3 linked regions of the Homo sapiens genome follow. The protein of the gene in region 3 interacts with the protein of the main gene of each other region in a pairwise test. Each region holds a gene or a part of one and is shown on either strand. Other genes may lie near its edges. The genes, in order: SETMAR, JADE1 and YJU2.

The links.
Region 1: the proteins of YJU2 (region 3) and SETMAR interact in binary tests that used the Homo sapiens proteins (3 or more experiments, as listed by UniProt).
Region 2: the proteins of YJU2 (region 3) and JADE1 interact in a two-hybrid assay, tested with the Homo sapiens proteins (2 studies listed by BioGRID and IntAct).

The regions. Positions count from the first base shown.
Region 1 is NC_000003.12:4,298,776-4,306,379, reverse strand, and holds the start of SETMAR (histone-lysine N-methyltransferase SETMAR), read right to left. Parts: upstream 3,012-7,604; 5' UTR 3,010-3,011; coding exon 2,854-3,009; exon of another isoform or gene 2,709-2,853; coding exon of another isoform or gene 2,512-2,708; exon of another isoform or gene 1,901-2,511; coding exon of another isoform or gene 1,778-1,900; intron 1-1,777. UniProt on the Homo sapiens protein: Protein derived from the fusion of a methylase with the transposase of an Hsmar1 transposon that plays a role in DNA double-strand break repair, stalled replication fork restart and DNA integration.
Region 2 is NC_000004.12:128,868,647-128,875,755, reverse strand, and holds the end of JADE1 (protein Jade-1), read right to left. Parts: intron 4,402-7,109; coding exon 3,494-4,401; 3' UTR 532-3,493; downstream 1-531.
Region 3 is NC_000019.10:4,250,039-4,257,147, reverse strand, and holds part of YJU2 (splicing factor YJU2), read right to left. Parts: intron 6,122-7,109; coding exon 5,977-6,121; intron 2,794-5,976; coding exon 2,659-2,793; intron 1-2,658.

The sequences.
Region 1 (7,604 bases), on a different chromosome or scaffold from region 3:
TAATATACACTTTGAGAAATAGAAAACCTCATGATTTTATGGACATTAATGATTACAATGATTCTAAGGGAGATACTTATATAATTTATTTTTAAATAATTTAACGCTTAAAGTGAGTTAATTAAAAAAATACGTCGGGCACATAGTTTTACAGATTGTTCTTGGATATGGCAAAGAAAAATATGACTCAAGATTGGAAACAGATTTATAGAATAGTCTCAAACGCACACACACACGCACGGCAGGAATATTGAAGCTAATCGTGACAGTTGTAAACACCTTGAGGGTAGAGTGCGTTTTTCTGTTTGTTGTATTCTTTGCAGCCCAACCCACCACCTTGCATATATTTAGCTCTCAATAAATATTTGTTGAATTAAGAATGGACTAGAACAGTGGTTTTTTAAATCAGTGTTTTTGACCAGGAACTCAGCAATGCTTAGTCCTAAGTTTTCAGGGACCACTGTTTAATATTGGGCCAGCTAACTGTATTATTAACTATAAATTGCCAAAGGTAGTCTGGGGAACAATAATAATTTCTGACATTAATATCTTATTCTACTCTTTGAGGACTAAACTCTGATTTTTTCTTATCTTGCCCAAATTCCTACCCAAGGCACCTGGGGAGTCATGCCTTACAAACCATAAAGTCTCATCAGAGGAGTTTTAATTTTAACCCTATATAGCATGGTCTGCTTTCTACCTGACTCTGGCATAACATCAAATAACAAATAAGGGAAGAAATCAAAATATTTTAACCCCAAATATATTTCCTTGCCATATCTTGAAATTGCCCTGGAGGGTTGTCTCTTGTGGGAAAAATCCACATTCTATAGAGAATCCCCTTTCCCCCTCTTTTTCTTTCTTTCCACAACAAGGAGATAATCAACTAAGACCGAGGCACCTTTTTAAGTTAGATAAGAAACATTTTACAACCTGCTCCCTCTGAAGTCAGCTGGGAGTCTCCTCCCCACAATTAAAACTTGGGTCTCTACATGGCCGGGTGCGGTGGCTCACGTCTGTAATCCCAGCACTTTGGGAGGCCCAGGTGGGTGGATCACTTGAGGTCAGGAGTTTGAGACCAGCCTGGGCAACATGGTAAAACCCTGTCTCTACTAAAAATACAAAAATCAGCTGGGCGTGGTTGTAGGCGCCTGTAATTCCAGCTACTCGGGAAGCTGAGGTGGAAGAATCGCTTGAACCTGGGAGGCGGAGGTTGCAGTGAGCTGATCGCACCACCACACTCTAGCCTGGGTGATGGAGTCAAGCTCCGTCTCAAAAAAAAACCCTTTATCTTAACCTAAACATTTCTATTGATCCCAGGTCTTCAGACAAACTCAACCAATTGTTAACCAGAAAAATTGTTAACCAGAAAAATTAAAATCTACCTATAGTCTGGAAGCCCCCCCCACCACTTTGAGTTGCCCCGCCTTCTGAACCAAACCCATGTACATGTTAAATGTATTTGATTGACGTCTCCTCTCTCCCAAACATGTATAAAACCAGGCTGTGCCCTAACCACCTGGGACACATGTTCTCAGCATCTCCTGAGGGCTGTGTCACAGGCCATGGTCACTCATATTTGGCTCAGAATAAATCTCTTCAAATATTTTAGAGTTTGATTCTTTTCCTTGACATCTTTGAAAGCTGCTATTGAATCTCTTATCTTATCTGATCCTCACAAAAACCCCTAGGAAAAAGAAAGGGCAGATAGGGTTCATTGTTGATAATGGATGTTAAAGGGGCTATGCATTTTTAAATTATTATTTTCATTTTGCAGATGAAGAAACTCAGGCTCTGGGAAGTAGCTAAGATGTCTAAGCTCCGAACCATACTCTCCAACTTCCACGTCCAGCGCTCTTTCCACTTCAAAATCTTTGGTCATTCCTTATTCCTTGGGTAACGCTCAGGCCAAGGTCGGAGGGATAAGAAAGTCAGTAGAGGCTGGGAGCGTGGCTCATGCCTGTAATCCCAGCATTTTGGGAGGCCGAGGCGGGCGGATCACCTGAGGTTGGGAGTTCGAGACCAGCCTGACCAACATGGAGAAACCCTGTCTCTACTAAAAATACAAAAATTAGCCGGGCGTGGTGGCCCATGCCTGTAATCCCAGCTACTCGGGAGGCTGAGGCAGGAGAATCGCTTGAACCCGGGAGGTGGAGGTTGCGGTGGGCCGAGATCGCGCCAGTGCACTCCAGCCTGGGCGACAGAGCGAGACTCAGTCTCAAAAAGAAAAAGGAGAGTAGAAAGGGCTTTGAGGTAGTTAATAGAAGCAAACATTTACTGAGTTCTTACAGCAAACCGGAAAGTGTATTTTCCTTGCCATTTTCAAAGCACTCCGGAAGAGAGGTACTGTTCCACTGTACGCTGGAAGACTCTAAGGCTGAGCCACAGCTAATTTACACTCGCCCAAGAGCCCACAGCGTGAGGGAGACCACAGCTAAGGCTGACTCGAGGGGCTGTTTTTATGCACGACACCGGCTGCGATCCATTAATAGGCCCCACGGCTTATCCTACCTGTGAGAGACACCTGAGACCAGGGAGGTAAATGACTCCCCCCGTGATGCCTCCTTGAGTTCTGAGGACAGGACTGGACAAAAAGCCAGGTTCTCACAAGGCCTCCGGTTCTGCGCTTCAGGGAATGGACTGAAAAGGACAACACCCTTGCTAAGGTGATGCCGTGGGTCAACAGAAAAAGGCCCAGGCCGGGGCATGCACACCTATTCCCGCGCACCAACGGGTGCGCTGTAAGAGAAGACAAAAGGTCGCGACTGGGAGGCCGTCCCAGCGAGGCGGCTTGAGGAGACCACGTGGGGGAGCCGCGCGCCCGCCTCCCGCGCCGCCTGGCCCCGCCCCTACCTGGAAGGGCGCCGGCGCGGCCCCCGGGGGCCACGCGCCCACCGGCAAGTTTTCCTGGCCGCACGCGACATCCAGCTGCTCAGTCGGGGCCTCAGGCTTCTCCTTAAACTCCGCCATCCCACAAGGCCGTGTCGTCTTTGCCGCTTCCGCGAACATTTACCCGCCTCACGCAACGCCCACTACCCTGACAGTCCTGGGCCGCGCGGTGGATGCTGGGACTTGTGGTCCCGTGGCCCCACCGCCTCATGGGAATTGTAGTTCGTTTCTTCTCAGGAGTGGCCTGGAAGGCGCTTCCCTTCCTTGACTTTTTGGGTCTGGCTCCCGTTTTGATTTCAGCCAGAGGCACCACAGATAATTACAAAACCATGTAAGGTACGGACGAAACAAAGTGAGGTGCTTTAGTTTTTCCTGGGAGCATCAGAGAGGGGGCTTTCGAGGTGAGGTCATTTGTCCAGGTTTTTGAGGGCTCACTGCACGTTTGTGGAGTGGAGGCAGGGGTGCGTTCTAAACCGAGCGGGGAAACGCACACCAAGGTTTCTAAAGGTCTGCGGCTTGCCGGGAAGTTGACTGACATGTGATAGGGTTTGTGCCAAGGCGATAGCCTCACAGGGTGCCTTAAGGAATTTGTGTGGGGGCATGCTCACTCCCTGATGGAGGTATCCGTGCCCCTTTGCCTGTCCTTTTCCCTCCTCTCCATCCCTCTACCCTCACCCCTCCAAACCCCTGCCCTGCCAAAGGATTCTGATAGCCTCAAGACTGCTGAATCCGGTGGAGCATTTTCAACCTCACTGAAGCTCTCTGACATGATTGTCCTGCTTCTCCTTGAAACTGTAAACCAAAAATAAAATTCCAATCCTCCAAACCATCTGAAGGGACCCCTCCTCTCTGCCAAGGTTAACCTGAGAAAGTGGTTCAGGCCATGATGGGAAGGGGGGTCCAACATGCCTCATTATGCCCTTCTTCCTTTTGGAATTCAGGAAAAGCCAGCCAGCATCAACATCAACACACACCTTAAGTCTGATAAGAAACATTTACAATCTGTTCTCTGAAATTTACCTCTTGGAGGCTTCATCTCCACGATCAAATTTGGTATCCACAACCTCTTATTGCAACCCAGACATTCGTTTCTATTGATTTTAGGTCTTTAGATAATAACCAGTTGCCAATCAGAAAATCTTTAAATCTACCTATGACCTGGAAGCCACCCCTCACCCGCTTCTCGTTGTCTGCCTTTCCAGATCCAACCAATCTTACATGTATTGATTGATGTATTATGTCTCCCTAAAATGTGTGAGAGTAAGCTGTATCCCAACCACCTTGGGCACATGTCATCAGGACTGCCTGAGGCTATGTTGGGGGCGCATTCTTAAGCTTGGGAAAATAAACTTTCTAAATTGAGACCTGTCTCAGATAATTTTGGGTTCACAAACCCTTCTGACCTTGCAGCTTCTGAGGTCCCATTGGCCTAAATGTGTTTCCATCTTGCAGACCTTTCCTTGTTAGTATCCTCTTGTTGTTTTCCTGCCTGACTGTTTCTGAAAAGTGGGTGTGATTCAGGGTTCTGCCCTTGACCTTTTTCTTTGCTCCCCTTCCCTGAACTTTCTCATTAATAACATCCACTCCCATGGCTTCAAATATAAAGGATTAGGTCACCAGTCTCCAACCCAGATCAGACGTTTCTCCTCAAATCCAGTTACGCATATTCAGCTAATGATTGAGCATTTCTGTTTTCTGTCCTACAGGCTCCTCAAACTCAAAATAATCTGAATTGACTTCTTCTGCCAGTCTTGCTTTTTCTTCTTTAAAGTTAACTGGGAAAATAATTTGTGATCTACAGAGCCACTAAAGCAACAAACCAGTTACTCTGTATTCCTTCACTTCACTAGACTCATATAGCTAAGGACGTGGTGGGTAAGTCTTGTTGATTCTGCCTTCATGTTCTCATTTTTGCCTCTTCTCACTTAGTCCTAGGCTCTCTCATTTCTTGCTTGGACTTTGGAAGTTCTTTGCTTTAAGTCTGTCATTCTCCATATCCCCAAATCACCCTTACTGCCGCTGCTACAATGACCTTTGAAGATCCTTGTCCAGTTATTATATTTTGCTGCTTAGATTCTTATTTGCTCCATTTTCTCTCAAAGTTTACCTTCTATATTCTGTCTTATGAGCCTTTGAGGACCCAGACTTTACCTATTTCCTTGGTCTCTTTTGCTGCTGTTCTCTGTTGGAACCCCTTGTTCTGTTGACATTCCCTCAAAAAGCCATTCTACTTGGGCCTCTGGGCCTTTGTCCACATTGTTCTTGTATCTCCAGTGCCTTTACCCAGGACTGTCTGTCTGCTCAGCTCAAGTAGTCCCTTCTCTGTATCTTTCTTTACCCTGTTTCCCTTAGCATTGGTTACCCTCTTTACATTAGTTCTCCTACTTTATAAGCCATTTCTTATGTTCCCTGCAACTATTTAATGTAAGCACAGGCAAAACCATCTTATTGAACTCATAAAAATTATATATATATATATTGGTGGAGGGTGGGGAGATAGATAGATAGAGAAACATTTTGTTTTAACTTAAATGATTTTGGTACATTTATATGCTAGTCTTTTGATGTAGGGCCAAAAGAGAAGGAGAGCTAGAGTGTGTGTGTGTGTGTGTCTCTGTATGTTTGTTTTCTACTGATTAGAGCTCCAGGTCAAGCTTACTCTGAGTTCCAGTTTTGGTGTCTTTAAAGTGGGGTGGGAACTAAAGGATAGTGAAGCAATGGGATATCATGATCTGTTTTCTTTCCCTAGTCTTTTATACTTTTCTCACTCACACCCACTTCAAGGGCAAAACATTTTTTAGTGACTTGCTTTTTTTTCTCCAAGTCTTTACAGAATGTTCTACTTAGTTATCCCAGAAGGGAGAAACTCTTTGCACTCATAGTTCATCATCCTTTTTTCATAAAATTATAATAACAGTTATACCTGGCATTAATAGGTTTGAGAACAGAAATTAAAGATCAGCCTTATAAATGTGCTATTCATGAGCATGTATAAAATCACATAATTTTGCACTGCAGTACACATCTGATATAAAAACTTTTTTGAGTACACATCTGATATAAAAACTTTCTTGTGTTGCTGTAAAGAAATACTTGAGGCTAGGTAATTTATAAAGAAAAGAGGTTTAATTGGCTCATGGCTCTGCAGGCTGTACAGGTAGTATGGTGCTGGCATTTGTTCGGTTCCTGGGCAGGCCTCAGGAAGCTTTGAGTCATAGTAGAAGGTGAAGAGGAAGCAGGCATCTCACATGGTCAAAGCAGGAGCAGTGAGAGAGAGTGGGGGTTGGGGCAGGTGCCACACACACTTTTAAATGACCGGATCTTGTGAGAATTAACTCACTGTTGTGATGACAGCACCGAGGGGATGGTGCTTTAGCACCCATGGGTTTAATGAGAAACCCGCCCCCATGATCCAGTCTTCTCCTACTATGCCCCACCTCCAACACTGGGGATTAGATTTCAACATGAGGCTTGGATGAGGACAAATATCCAAATTATATCAATAGGGAATTGATTCTATGTAGAAAAGAATCAAAATGTAAGAGTTAGGGGCACAGTATCTGAAATCAGCCATGACTAAATTTATATTCCTACTCTGCAAATTTCTGACCATGGGAAATAATAGCTAACATTTATTGACTTATTATGTACCAGATACTGTTTTTTTATTTTTTATTTTTTGAGGTGGAGTCTCACTCTGTCACCCAGGCTGGAGTGCAGTGGCGCCATCCTGGCTCACTGCAACCTCCACCTCTTGGGTTCAAGCAGTCTTCCTGCCTCAGCCTCTTGAGGAGCTGGGATTACAGGTGTGTGCCACCACACCCAGCTACTTTTTTGTATTTTTAGTAGAGCTGGGGTTTCACCGAATTGACCATACTGGTCTCAAACTCCTGACCTCAAGTGATCCACCCATCTCCACCTCCCAAAGTGCTGAGATTACAGGCATAAGCGACGACATCTGGCCCAGATATTGTTTAAACATTTGATATGTATAAATTCATTAATACCCATAATATGGTACTTGAAACATCTACCACAGGGTCATTTCAGGTTCAACTAAACATTCGGGTTCACAGGACTGTCACTGGCCACACTTGGCATTAGCTTCACTTGAGATTATAGGACAAGAGCCAAAGCCTACCAGCAGAGAGGCCTCAGGTGTACCCCTTCTGTGGGAATAGTGCTTGCAGTCCACACAGCAGGTCACAGAGCTGCCTGGGAGCTGTTTGTTCTCCCAGAGGGTGGCTCAAATGCAAGGAGAATATATCCCATTAATAGGGTGTGGGGGAATCCTGAATTAGAAGCCTTGCCTCTCAGAAGCTATAGATTTTAAGGTAGCTGCCTAGTAAATATTTTATCAGATATAGTTGTGTACCTATCCTTCCTTAAAAGAAGAGATAGTCATGTATATGATACAATTAGCTGCTTATAGTATAATTAAGAAACATAAGAAGGTTTAGGTAAAGTGCTATGGATCTTTAGAACTGGTAAAGATTACTTTTAGCAGGGGAGATCATGAATGATGGATAGGATTTAGGCATTCCAGGTGGAAGGAACAGGAGAAGCAAAGTAATAAAAAGAAAGATGTGGATAGGAAAGAGTAATTTCAGATTGGCTGGAGATAAGGTTTGTTTCACCCTTCAGGAATTTTGAATAGTATGGGAATTTCTCAGATATTCAGAGAACATGCTGTTCATTCATTTTAAGAAAAGTTT
Region 2 (7,109 bases), on a different chromosome or scaffold from region 3:
TGTAAACATCAGTGTCTTGTTCCTAATAAAAATAATAGCCTACCACTTACTAAATGCCTAATATATGCTCTCTGTAAGGTGCTCAATGGACTTGCTTTAAATAATCACAACTACTTCAATATCTAAGTTACTAAGATGTTATCCTCTTTCTGGGAAAACTGAGGCTTAAAACGGTTAAGTGACTTGGCCAATGTCATGTGCCTGGTAAACTATAGTTTAGCCTTTAAATACAGTTCTCTCTGACCCTGAAGTCTACGTTGTTTCAACGATTCTGTTTTCAGATCCAAAACTGTATTCTGGAAAGAACTCCAGGTGGGGAAGACTAAACTCAAACCGTTATTTTTCAGTCTCGCCATCAGAGTTGAGCCAGAAAGCAGCCCAGTGAATCTGTGCTCTGCACAAATTTGATATGTTCTCTACAGTTCTCATTCCTGATTTAAAGTGGAAGACAGTAAACAACTGATTCAGGACTGCTAAGTCATATATACCTTTAAATATTTAGCAAAAGCAGATTTCAAAAGACACTTAAAATGTATTGCAAAATGTACAGCATTTATTCACATACAGACAAAAAGGCACAATTCTACTAAATAGTTCAACAAAAAAATACAGCTGTCCTCAACTAGTTTTATAAATACTTTCAAAAAGGGGGTAGAAATAAATACAGGATTGGGTCATGTAATATAAAATAGTCATCTCTACATATACTTTAATTTGATTTTTAACTCTTCATGCACCTTTTTTTTTTTTTCAATTTTAGCTGAATGGACACCAAGCTAGGCACATAGTGAAAAATCCTCTGTACAAGGTTACAAATGTAATGACAAGTTTGTCCATTTCAAAATAAGATTTGTACACAACACATAAAACCCTTCATTTAGATCTTGTGTTTATAACCTAACAAATGACATTCCAGGCAACTTTACAAAAGTTTAACTAGCCTACATTTTGACATAATACATTAATCATAATCAAAGATATTTCTTGGTCAGGATGCACAAGGAAAGATAAAGCTTAAAAAAAACAAATGCAAATGGTTCCATACTAATAGAACGCAAGTGGGTGTTTGGGCTGGTTGCTGCTTATGGCCACCTCATAGAGAGTTCCCAGCATGACATGAAACTAACTCACAAAGCTATCATTATACTGTCAGAGAAACCGTGCTCTATCCATTTGCATTTCGAAGCAGGAATAAAAAGTGTGGGCTTTTTATTTTTGTGTGTTTTGTTTTTGTGTGGGTTTTTTTTAATATTTTTTGTTTTGTTTTTGTTTTGTTTTTTTTGGTTCAGCATAACTTGGAACATTTGAAAGCTTTTCAACCTAAATGTGGGGAAAAAACAGGTAAGGCATTATTTTTGCACAAAACTAGCATTCCTAATAGTGCAAATGAATCTGATACCTCTTAAAATGGTGAGAGGTCATACACTTACTAGATTAATTTAGATTTTCTTTCTATGGCTTGACAAATTATCCCTCTATAAATTCTACTCTCACCCAGAGCTGTTGCTGTAATCAAAAGATAACTGTAGATAAAGTCCAACCTTCTCCTGTATCCAGCAAAAGGTTTTTGCTCATATGCAAAAAAAATCTAATTTTTAAATTATCCTACAAGTGAATATACAACTTGGATTCATAAGAACCTTCTATTATCTGCAGCAACAAGCTGATCTGGACAGCAGTCTTTCAAAATGAGCCCCATAACTCAAAAATAGTCAGTCAATCTAAAAACCTGCATCATTCTTCCCCCTCCCCTGAATTAGCTACTAAAATGTCCTTGAAAAGTTAAGACTTGGTTTGAAAATGTCGTACATACAATGGGGATGTATCAGATCTACTATTTGATCATCTGATAAAACTTGCATAGCAAGATGGGATTCAATAAGCCTTTTTTGTTGTTGACAATCATCTGGAAGACTTGAAAGTTAACTGCAGAACTCCTCAAAGCATTATTCATTAAGTATCATAATGTCCCTGCCATATGGAAACAGATGTATAAATGAATCAGGAATCTGAATACTGGTATTAACAAACTAAGGAGAATTTAGGGGAAGTCGGGCTTGTTCCAAAGGCCCATAATTCTGTATCTCATTGCTATTTAAACGTTCCTTCCTTAAGTTTGATTCACAACCACATTGAATTCCAAAGAAAATTAACAGGACCTAAACACTATCCACTGTCTTAATACATACGCACTATGGGGAGTGCAAAAACAAAACATTGTACTCAAATTTAATGCTAAATTTATTATTGCTGATAACTTAATAGTTATTGCCATTTGCAATTAGAAAGTCCAAGTTACAAATTAGAGTTTAGAACTCTGACTACAGAAAACCTATTCAAGGGTACACTTCAGTCTCTTTCCTGTATAACCTTGGTCAATAGTAAGAGCTTATCGCAACTTATTGCCTTTCTATTGTTTTTAAAATATAACCTATTTCGCTTTTTTCTCTTTTTTTCTTTTTTCTTTTTTTTTTCTTTTTTTCTTTTTTTTTTTTTTTTCCTTTTTCTTAAGGAATCCATTCATGTTGGAAGCCCAGATTCCCTAACATATGCACTAGTGGTTGGCTCTGGGAAGTAACAGTCACCAGAGTCTGGAAGTTCTTCGCTTGAACTTGAGTAGCCACTGTACTATTGGAAGCCAGATGGCCAGGTATTGGCAATGGCCAGGGAAATCCCAAGCTGGCTCAAGAGCCAGTGGTTAGGGAAGAAGAAGGTCAAGTGGACTGGTAAAAATTCTACTTCAACTGCCCTTATTCATAGATACAACTTTCCTAACAGTCTCACTCTCCACCAGTCCCATATCCACAACCCACTCACAGGCTTCAAGCAGCAGGACCTTGCCATATTACCCTAAATCTCCATATTGCAGCAGCTCTACCCTGTCCCCTCAGCTTCTTCAATAATGACCTTTTTTAAAATTCTCTTCCCTGACTGCTATATTTACACATAAATTTCTTAGTGTTACTGAAGCTTCAGAGCTGCTGCCTATATGCTATAATGCAACAAAAATAGCCTTGAGGGCCAAATATAAATATGATTTCAAGATCTACCACAGTCCTAGAAAATAAACTTTATGGGCTGTGAATGGTACCATGAGGGTTTCTCAAGAACCATATCTGGTTCCCTATATTCAGGTAACCATGAGTTTGTGCTTTGGGAAGAATGCAGAGGGCTATAAAAATTCATGAGGCTTATTTAAGCCTTGCCTTCTTTAAAACATTTCATTTTTATTTTAGTGTTCAGTTCGGGTTCTAGTCTTAGCAGTGTCTTATGGTTACAATCTACTCTTCTGTTTCCTCAACAAGTTGCAAATAACACAAACTTCTCACAAAAATGATTTAAAAATGACTCTGGAAAAAAATTAATCTGAATTGCAAGTAAATGTGTTTGTGTAGCTCAGGATTAATGGGTTTCTGCTTCTCCCCCACATCAGAGCTCTCCTCTAGCAAACCCAATGACGAGCCCAAAGGGCTTCCGCATCATCTCTGTTGCATCAAGAAGCCAAGATGCTTCTCCTGATAATGTCTGTCCTTCTGCTGATAGTGCTGCTGGTGTGTATACATTTCTTTTCTGATGCCTCACTCTCTGAGTCACTCATTTCCACATCGGGGACATACCCGTCATTCTCATTGTCGGATTTTAATTTGCTTTTTGCCCTTTCCTTGGCTGGAACTCGGCCTAAGCCCAAATATGGGTAGTCTGAGTGCTGGTGGCAGGCCCCATCGTGGGCCTCTCCCTGCTGCTGCCGTTCCCCCTTCTTTGGAATCCGGAATCCTCCCCAGTTTTTCACTGGGCTGGCAGGTGTTGTAGGCACTTTGACTGCAGTCTGATTATAGTTTACTTTGATTAGGGAGCCATTGCACTTGGGCACTATCTCCTTCCTTGTGCCAGGTGCTGACTGCCCCACTCCAGGGGAGGTGGCAGCTCTTGTGTTGTCCAGATGCCTCTGGGACACATCTGTGGACCTGAGAGGCTTGTGACTCTGTTTAAAAGATTTGTCCTTTAAGTCTCCTTTAATGAGATCACAATGAAAACGATTGTCTCTTCTTTTCCCATGGTCTGGCATCACCACACCATTTTTCTGTTGTGCTGATATGAGACGTGCTTCTGCAAAGGTCTTTTCTAAACCCAAAAAGCTCTCTGGGACCACCATCCCCTCCCTTCTACCACACAGGTCTGGCTGCTTCAGCAGGGTTTTGCCTTCACTTCCAGGGCTATTCTGCAAAGGATCTCGCTTATGGGGCTTTTTCAGCGAATGAACCAAGGAAGTACCCATTTGTTTTCTGAAGAATGCAGAATGCCACTTCAAGTCCTCTATCTTGGGAGCATCAGGGCCAACAGAAGGACTGTTAAACAAAAGCATGTTTTCCAGTGAGGAGGAGGAGCAGGAAGAAGGCACACCTATAAACATAAAACCACAAATAAAGAAAAATTACAGCAGAAGCAAATCCAAAAGAATAAAATTCTACACCCTTAGTGTGGCCCAATTGATGTGAACTCCCCACCCAACAACACAACACTTACACCACCAAGTTTGTACAAATTTGGTTTTTATAGTGAAGAGATGACCTGCCTTGAGAATCTCCATTCAATCTGCAGACTCAATATGCCACATTTTCTAAAACAGCTGAAGCTCACATAATTTTTCATAAAACTAGACCTCCTCCAAACAAAATAACTGATCTGATTTTCAGAGCGGACTCCATGCAGAACTCATCAGGTGGCTGATGGCTGCCTCTGCTCCCTCTACCTGGTTACAGAGCAGCACCTGCGCCGCGCTCCTCCACGGTCCAGTCTTCTGCCTCCCGTACGAGACTGAGAGGACCCAAAAAGCAGGGCTCGGGGCTTGTAAGTTTCTCTATGTGTCTGTACCCTCACAGGGCTATTACGAGGACAAGTACATGTAAACATGTGAATGAATAAAGGAAATGTGTGAAATAATTCTTGACACATAGTAAGCGTTCCAAAAATGTTCATTATTATTATGTGCAAAATACATTTGTGGGATTCAACTGAATTGTCATTCAACTTGAAGTAAGTTAAATTGATGTTTTTCGTATTTTTTGATGCAAATCACAGTGACTAAATTCCACAGCATGACCTAGTAAGAGTTCACATTTCACGAAATAATATTAACCCTCATCATTTGATAATGTACTCTGACATTTCCTATTATACTTTACTTGTTTTTAATACTGGTCATGACCCACTGAATTCATCTCACAACCCACTAATGAGTTGTTACCCCTAGCAGGTGAATTCATAACACATTAGTGTTTGTCATAAAGACCATGATTCTACAACAGCCTCAAGATCATCTAGAAAGAGCAGTTCTCATGTTTTCTGTCTCCCATAAGATATGAGCCACCAAGAAAACAAGGTTCAGCCCCCAGGTTATGAGACAGGAGGCCATATGAGAACCTAGTGCTCACCAGACACAGACACTGCAAGCAAATGAAACATAGCTAGCGACTCAGAACACAGAGCTGTCATGACCACAGGAGGTGTTTTACAACCTGCTGGTTTGGAAATGCTGCTTTCTCAAGAATCAATCATTAGAATCAACCTTCACATCACACTGCATATATTTCTTTTACTCAATCACCTGCCACAGGAAAAGAGAATGGTAAGAAGAGGCTAACATTTTCTGAACTCTGATTTCTATCTCCTTGACTGTAATCCATGTCTCTAAAGAGCCTCCAACTCATGACCCTCCCACCCCCCATAAGCACTGTTGCCACTGAGGACACTCTCAGCAAATGACCCTACCCACTCTCAGAATCACAGAGTTTAAACCATGGACCCTAAATGACATATAAATCATGACCATCTGCTCTACTTCAGGCAGGAGACAGCCTTTAGGCATGAATAAGAACACGACTGAAGCCTAGGACTGGAAAAAGAAAAAAAGCACCCTAAAGGGTTTCAACTGCATTACTCAACAGAATCCTACAGGAAGATAAATGTTTTCAACTGATCATACCTATGGTTCTTACATCAGAATGAAAGGAAGATTTGTTTTCCTTTTCTGAAATAGTAGGACTTCTGAATGCAGATCTACATTACAGCTCTGTTACCACAAAATAACTCCCAGACTTATTAAGAATATCATTCGCTCACCCAGTAAAAACCTCAGCCATGAAATGCAAAAACCTGCCTGCAATATCCATGAGAAATAACTCAAATGAAACCAGATGAAAATGCTCTTTACGGCTTATTTTTACAGGGAATCACTCATTACATAATGACCTAAGAGTTGCAGAAAGCCCTCCAATGGCACAACTCCACAGGCACAACTTGTATTAGTGATCCCAGCTCAGCATTTGCTGCTGTAGGCTCGGTGATCTGCACCAGACAGTCTTCCAAGGCAGTTAAACAGATCTCATTTATTTGTATTCAGGTAGGAATCATGAAGAGAGAGCTCACCTTAGGGAATCTGAATCGACCTACTTTTACATATGACACCCTACTTAGAAAATTTATTTTTAAAATCTTAACAATTAAACTGCAAGTTCCAGCTAATGATATACACTTGATTCACCTGGAAAATACTTAATCTTGGGAAGAAAATATCTAGGATATCAACAAGTTATTGCATTCAAACTATGTAACACTTCAAGAACATTATTTAAACCTCCCTAAACCTTTTTTTATTTCTTCAGATGACCGAGCTCCCTCTAGTCGCACATAATTGGTTAGATAAACCAGAATTTGGATTTCAACACAACAGGTTATAACAACTTCTTTGTTCTCTGTGCACCATAATAATCTAGATGGAGTGACAAAAAGCCACAAATGCACAAAAACAAGAGTGAATCAACTATGATTGCACAACGCAAGCACCAAGAATGGTGCAGCTAGAACTTTAAAGGGCAGTCCAAGGCAGGAGAGAGGCTGACTATCTTCCAATGAAGTCCAGTCTAAGACCTACCTGTTCCATGGGTCCCTAATTCTGCCTGATCCACACTCAGCAGCTCTGCTTCTCTGAAATCCTTATACTACCTACTTTTGGGGGCTTATGATCACAGAATATAGGGCTCAAATGCACTTAAGGGGTCTTGATTCTAAAACAAACTTTAAGATCAACGGAATCTCAGAGAGGTTAAACA
Region 3 (7,109 bases):
GGTCCCTGAGAAGTGGCTTTGGAGCCAGGCAGGTTGGGAGTGAATCCTGCCTGGCTGCTTCCCAGTGCTGTGACCTTGTTGTATTTACCCTTTGGAAAAATGGCAATTCTGACAGTTTAAAAGTATGTCCACAAACTCTCTGATGCTCCTCCATTTAAGGGGTGGAGGTGACTCCCCTCCCCTTGAGCAGGGGCTGGACAAGCTACTTGCTCTAATGGAATATGACAGAAATAATGGCACGTAACTTCTGAGACTAGGATGTAAAAGCACAGGCCTTCCTCCTTGCTCTCACTCTTGGGTCACATGCTCTGGGGTACGCAGCTGCCATGTTGTGAGGTTGCTCAAGCAGCTCCCCACACAGCGAGGAACTGAGGCTGACAGCCAACAGCCAGTAGAGGGAGCCAGTTTGCGAGTGGCTCCTCCAGCCCCAGTCCAGCCTTCAGATGATACTGCCCTGGCCAACACCTTGACTGCAACCTCATGGGAGCCCCCAAGCCACAACCATCCAGCTCAGCTGCTTCTGGATGCCTGACTCTCAAAAACTGTGGGATAATAAATGTTTGTTGTTTTCAGTCACTAAGTTTTGGGATAACCTGTTATGTAGCAATAGCTGACTAACACCAGGGTAAGAGCCCCTTGCTGTCAGTGTGGAGGTAACTAAATTCACACACAGACAGCAGTGCGACAGGCCCAGGCACACACCAAACCCTTGCCAAGGCTCATTTCCCTCCCTGTTGCTCTGCATGGCCATGGAAAATGTTGTATCTGGTCTGATGTGGCTTGCTCAGAAAACTCACATTTGGCAGGGGTGGGTGGGTCCAGGAATAGATAAGAATGGATGGGAAATATGGAAGCAGGAGGGGACAGCAGGGAACACAGTCATTTAAAAATCTGTTTTATATATATATGTGTATGTATATATATGTATATGTGTGTGTACATATATATATATATATATATATATATTTTTTTTTTTTTGCGACAGTCTTGCTGTCTTCCAGGCTGGAGTGCAGTGATGTGATCATAGCTAACTGCAGCCTCAACTTCCTGGGCTCAAGTGATCCTCCCGCCTCAGCCTCCCTAGTAGGTGGGACCACAGGTGCACACCAGTACACCTGCCTAATTTTTGTTGTTGTTGTTGAGACAGAGTTTTACTCTTGTTGCCCAGGCTGAAGTGCAATGGCGCGATCTTGGCTCACTGCAACCTCCGCCTCCTGGGTTCAAGCAATTCTCCTGCCTCAGCCTCCTGAGTAGCTTGGATTATAGGCGCGTGCCACCACGCCTGGTTAATTTTTGTATTTTTAGTAGAGACAGGGTTTCGCCGTGTTGGCCAAGCTGGTCTTGAACTCCTGACCTCAGGTGATCCGCCTGCCTCAGCCTCCCAAAGCACTTGGCTGATTTTTTTTTTTTTTTTTTTTTTGACACAGAATCTTGCTCTGTCACCCAGGCTGGAGTGCAGTGGCATGATCTCAGCTCACTGCAGCCTCTGCCTCCTGAGTTCAAGCAATTCTCTGCCTCAGCCTCCCGAGTAGCTGGGATTACAGGTGTCTGCCACCATGCCCGGCTAATTTTTTGTATTTTTAGTAGAGACGGGGTTTCACCCTCTTGGCCAGGCTGGTCTTGAACTCCTGACCTTGTGATCCACCTGCCTTGGCCTCCCAAAGTGCTGCGATTACAGGTGTGAGCCACCACGCCTGGCAAGCACCTGGCTAATTTTTTAATGTTTTATAGAGACAGAGTCTCACTATGTTGCCCAGGCTGGTCTTTGACTCCTAGACTCAAGTGATCCTCCTGTCTCAACCCCTAAAGTAGCTGGGACTACAGGTTCAAGCCACCATGCATGGCTCCTTTTAATATTTCTGAGAAAATACAAAATTGTCCTATTGGAAGTGAACATAATTTCTTTTATTTATTTATTTTTTTTGAGACAGAGTCTTGCTTTGCTGCCCAGGCTGGAGTGCAGTGGTTTGATCTCGGCTCACTGCAACCTCTGCCTCCCGGGTTCATGCAATTCTCCTGCCTCAGCCTCCCAAGTAGCTGAGATTACAGGCATGCGCCACCATGCTTGACTAATTTTTTTTTTTTTTTTTTGGAGACAGAATCTCACTCTGTCACCCAGGCTGGAGTGCAGTGGCGCCATCTCGGCTTCCTGCAACATCTGCCTCCCCGGTTCAAGCGATTCTCCTGCCTCAGCCTCCTGAGTAGCTGTAATTCCAGAAGCGTGCCACCATGCCTGGCTAATTTTTGTATTTTTAGTAGAGACGGGGTTTCACCATGTTGGTCAGGCTGGTCTCAAACTCCTGACCTCGTGACCCACCCACTTCGGCCTCCAAAAGTGCTGGGATTACAGGTGTGAGCCACTGCGCCCAGTGTTAAGTTTTAAAATTTTTAGTAGGAACAGGGTTTCGCCACATTGGCCAGGCTGGTCTAGGACTCCTGACCTCAAGTGATCCTCCCGCCTCAGCCTCCCAAAGTGCTGAGATTACAGGCATGAGCCACTATGCCTGGCCTCCTGGGGACATCTTAAAGTTTTACCAACCACGCCCCCCACCCCATCTTCCTTCCTTGGGGACCTGAGGCAGGAAGGGCACAACCATTGGCACACACACACACCCACACACACAGCGCCCATGAACACCTACATGGCCCCCGACTCACCTTCATGGGGTTGTTCAGCTCCTCGTCCTCCCGCTCCTTCTGCACCCTCTTCTCCTCCTCCTCCAGGAGCTTCTCAGCCTGGAAATTCCGCGTGGCTCCATGCTCCATGGTGTAGTCTGTGTTTTCAGGGTCTGTCTGCAGGGAGGATAGACAGACATCAGCTCCTACATCCCCAGGCACTAGAATCTTCTAAAGTACCACCAGCAGATCAGGGCCCCTTCTCTCTGATTTTTACTGGTTCTACTACCTTCTCTTTTTCTTGTCTTATTGCTTTGACTGGTGAGATTTCTTCCTAGTGCTCCTCCCATCTCCATGGGCAAAAATGCCCAACTCCCTGGCATGGACTTTAAGACTCTTCTCATCTGCCCACTGCCTCCCTGCATCCTCCACTCCCTACCCTTAACATGACTGCAAACAAACTCTCCAATGAGGCAGGTGGATCACTGGAGGTCAGGTATTCAAGACCAGCCTGGCCAACATGGAGAAACCCTGTCTCTACTAAAAATACAAAAAATTAGGCAGGGCAAGGTGGTGCATGCCTGTAATCCCAGCTACTCTGGAGGCTGAGGCATGAGAATCACATGAACCTGGGAGGCTGAGATCACACCACTGTACTCCAGCCTTGGCTACAAAGTGAGACCCTGTCTCAAAAAAAAAAAAAAATCTCCAAGGTTCTGCACATGTTGTGATTTCTGCCCTTTGTATTTATTAACACCTTTTCTTTGATTATAAATCACATGTACAAATATGTATACAGCATGCCCCTGTTTTTGTTTATTGAATAGAGAGGCTAAATACACCCTGGTATCTTAAATTACACACTGGAACAGAAAAGTGACATTAGCAGAAAAACTGAAATCTACCTTTGGTCTAAATGCTAATAGTAACACTATGTTTTTTATTTTTTTGGGGACAGGGTCTCGTGCTGTTGCCCAGGCCGGAGTGCAGCGGCAGGATCATGGCTCACTGCAACCTCAGCCTCCCGGGTTCAAGCAATCCTCTCACCTTAGCCTGCCGAGTAGCTGGGACTACAGGTATGCACCATCACACCTGGCTAATTTTTAAATTTCTTTTTGGTAGAGACAGGGTTTCGCCATGTTGCCCAGGCTGGTCTCTAACTCTTGGACTCAACCGATCCTCCTGCTTTGGCCTCCAAAGTGCCGGGATTACAGGCATGAGCCACTGCACCCAGCCACAGCCTACAATGTTAATGGTAACATTCCACCTTTAGTTTCTTTTTTTAATTAAAATTTGTGTGTGTGTGTGTGTGTGTGTGTGTGTGTGTGTGTGTAGACACGGACAGGGTCTCACTATGTTGCCCAGGCTAGTCTTGAACTTCTGGTCCCCAGCAATCCTCCTGCCTTGCCTTCTCAAAGCGCTGGGAGTAAGCCACCATGCCTGGCCCCACCCTTAGTATCTTACTGTGACAGATGTACCCTGGTTATATAAGATGCTAATATTCGGGGAAGTTGGTGAGGGGGTAGGTGAGAATTATCTGTACTATCTTTGGAACTTTTCTGTAAATCTTCAGGTATTTCAAAAAAAGTTTTTGTTTGTTTTTTTGCAGACAGGGTCTCACTCTGTCACTCAGGCTGGAGTATAGCAGTGAAATCATGGCTCACTGCAGCCTTGGCCTCCCAGACTCAATTGATTCTCCTGCCTCAGCCTCCCAAGTAGCTAGGACTATAGGCGCATGCCATCATGCCCAGCTAATTTTTATATTTTTTTGTACTGACGGGATCTCACTATGTTGCCCAAGCTGGTCTTGAATTCCTGGATTTAAGCGATCCTTCTCCCTTGACCTCTCAAAGTGTTGGGATTACAGGCGTGAGCCACTGCACCCAGCCAAAATATTATTATTATTATTAATTTATTTATTTATTTTTGAGACGGAGTCTCGCTCTGTCGCCCAGGCTGGAGTGCAGTGGCGCGATCTCAGCTCACTGCAAGCTCCGCCTCCTGGGTTCACGCCATTCTCTTGTCTCAGCCTCCCGAGTAGCTGGGACTACAGGCACCCGCCACCACGCCTGGCTAATTTTTTTCTGCTTTTTTTTTAGTAGAGACGGGGTTTCACTGTGTTAGCCAGGATGGTCTCGATCTCCTGACCTCATGATCCGCCTGCCTCAGCCTCCCAAAGTACTGGGATTAGAGGCGTGAGCCACTGCGCCCGGCCTATTTTTGTATTTTTTTTTAGTAGAGTTGGGGTTTCATCATGTTGTCCAGGCTGGTCTCGAACTCCTGACCTCAACTGATCCACTTGCCTTGGCCTCCCAAAGTGCTGATTATAGCTGTGAGCCACTGCGCCCAGCCCAAAATGTTTTTTTAATCAAAGAAAAAAAGCTTATGGCAAAAAAGTATTCAAAGAGTACTTAAGCATAGGAAGAGAAAATTTTAAGTTATCTTCAGTCTTTCCTTAAATTCTCAAGGTAACAAATAAAAGTCAAATTGCAATTTTTATTGGCTGTGTAATATTCCATTGCACGCTACTTTTTTTTTTCTTTTTGAGACAGAGTTTCATTTCGTTGCTCAGGCTGGAGTGCAATGGCGCAATGTTGGCTCACTGCAACCTCTCCCTCTCGGGTTCAAGCGATTCTCCTGCTTTGGTCTCCCAAGTACCTGAGATTACAGGCATGAGCCACCACGCCTGGCTCACTTTTGTATTTTTAGTAGAGACGGGGTTTCACCATGTTGGCCAGGCTGGTCTCAAACTCCTGACCTCAGGGGCTCTCTTTCCTGCCTTGGCCTCCCAACCTGCTGGAATTACAGGCATGAGCCACTGTGCCTGGCTTTTTTTTTTTTTTTTTTTAGTTGGAGTCTTGCTCTGTCACCCAGACTGGAGTATAGCGGTGCAATCTTCGCTCACTGCAACCTCTGCCTCCCAGCTTCAAGTGATTCTCCTGCCTTAGCCTCTCGAGTAACTGGGATTATAGTCCGCCACCATGCCCAGTAATTTTTGTATTTTTAGTAGACATGGCATTTCGCCATGTTGGCTAGGGTGGTCTTGAACTTCTGACCTCAGGTGATCTGCCCGCCTTGGCCGCCCAAAGTGCTGGGAGTACAGGTGTGAGCCATGCCCAGCCTGCATGCTAATTTGTTCTTCTCATCCCTTATTATTATCTATCTAGGTTGCTTCTGTCTTTTTGCCTTTATTTAGAATGCTGCCATGAACATCTCCCCCAAACTGTTGTCTGTTTCTTGGGGATAAACTGAAATGAGATTCCCTGGATGGAGAGGATTGGAGTTAAGGAACCCCAGGGCCCGCCCTGATCTGAGGTGTGCTGGGGGAGAGGGACCGGCCTGGCCGGCCGTCTCACCTACCTTGAAGGTGATCTCTGCCAGGCAGCGCGTGCACTTGATGTAAAAGCGGAAGATGGGCAGGCCCAGGTAGACCTCGTTCTGCACCGTCTCCTTCCGAGCATTGAATTTCTTCCCCTTGTAGATGTATTCTCCGCACGTCTTACACCTGCGGGGCAGCATGTAGGGATGTGAGCTGTCTTGGGACGCTGGCTCCCACTGGCAGGCTGTCCCTGCGGCATCCTGCAAGATCACTGCTTGCTTGCCTCCAGCAACGGGGAGCTCCCTCCTTCAAGAGGCAGGCTGCCCCACCCTGTGTCCAAATTTCCTCTACCTGAGAACTTCGTGTTCTCATTCATATCTTCCTGGGGCTCAGTCCAAGGGTCGCCTGCTTGGGAAGCCCCCTGAGTAGGTGAGGCCTGCCTGTCATGCACTCCCAGAAGCAATCTTTGTGCTTACGGGGCACCCCACCCTCCAGGAGGAAAGATGCCACACAGAAAAATGCTGCCCCACCCCCCTCTTCCCCTCCTACTCCGGGCTCTGCTCCCCAGCCCAGCACGCCCGCCTCCTGTCTGATCCTGCAAACACCCCCAGCTCAGTCCCAGCTCAAGGCCTCTGCTCCTACAGTCTCATGGCCGGCGACACCCTTCATCCTCAGACCTCAGCGCCACCAGTATTTTGCCTGATGTCACCGTACCCCAGCTACCTATAGCCCTCCCTCCTGCGCCACTGCCCCAGGGGCTCTCTCCTGCCTGACTTCGGGGGCCCGTGCACCTGCCTGACTACCACTATTCTCCACTTCCCATTAGACTGTGGGCTCCATGAGGCCAGGGACTTTGTTCCTGGCGCTCGGCACAGACCCTGGCACACAGCAGGTGCCCAATAAATGAGTGTTGAATGAATAAATGAATGAATGAGGGGGAGGAGTAGACAGGCCAACAACACATGGGCATGAACCGAATTTCACTGACCCAGATGTCTCTTTCCTCGTTAGGTGCGTGATTTCAGATATGCTAGAGCATGAAAAGGTATGGGGTTGAGAGTTGGTGAAATACAGTAATTCTGAAGTGCTACAAAAGGCAAGATCTGGGCACCGTGAGGGGATGATGGAGGCCTCCCGGAGGGGTGAGATTGGAGCCATGACCTATGGCAGACAA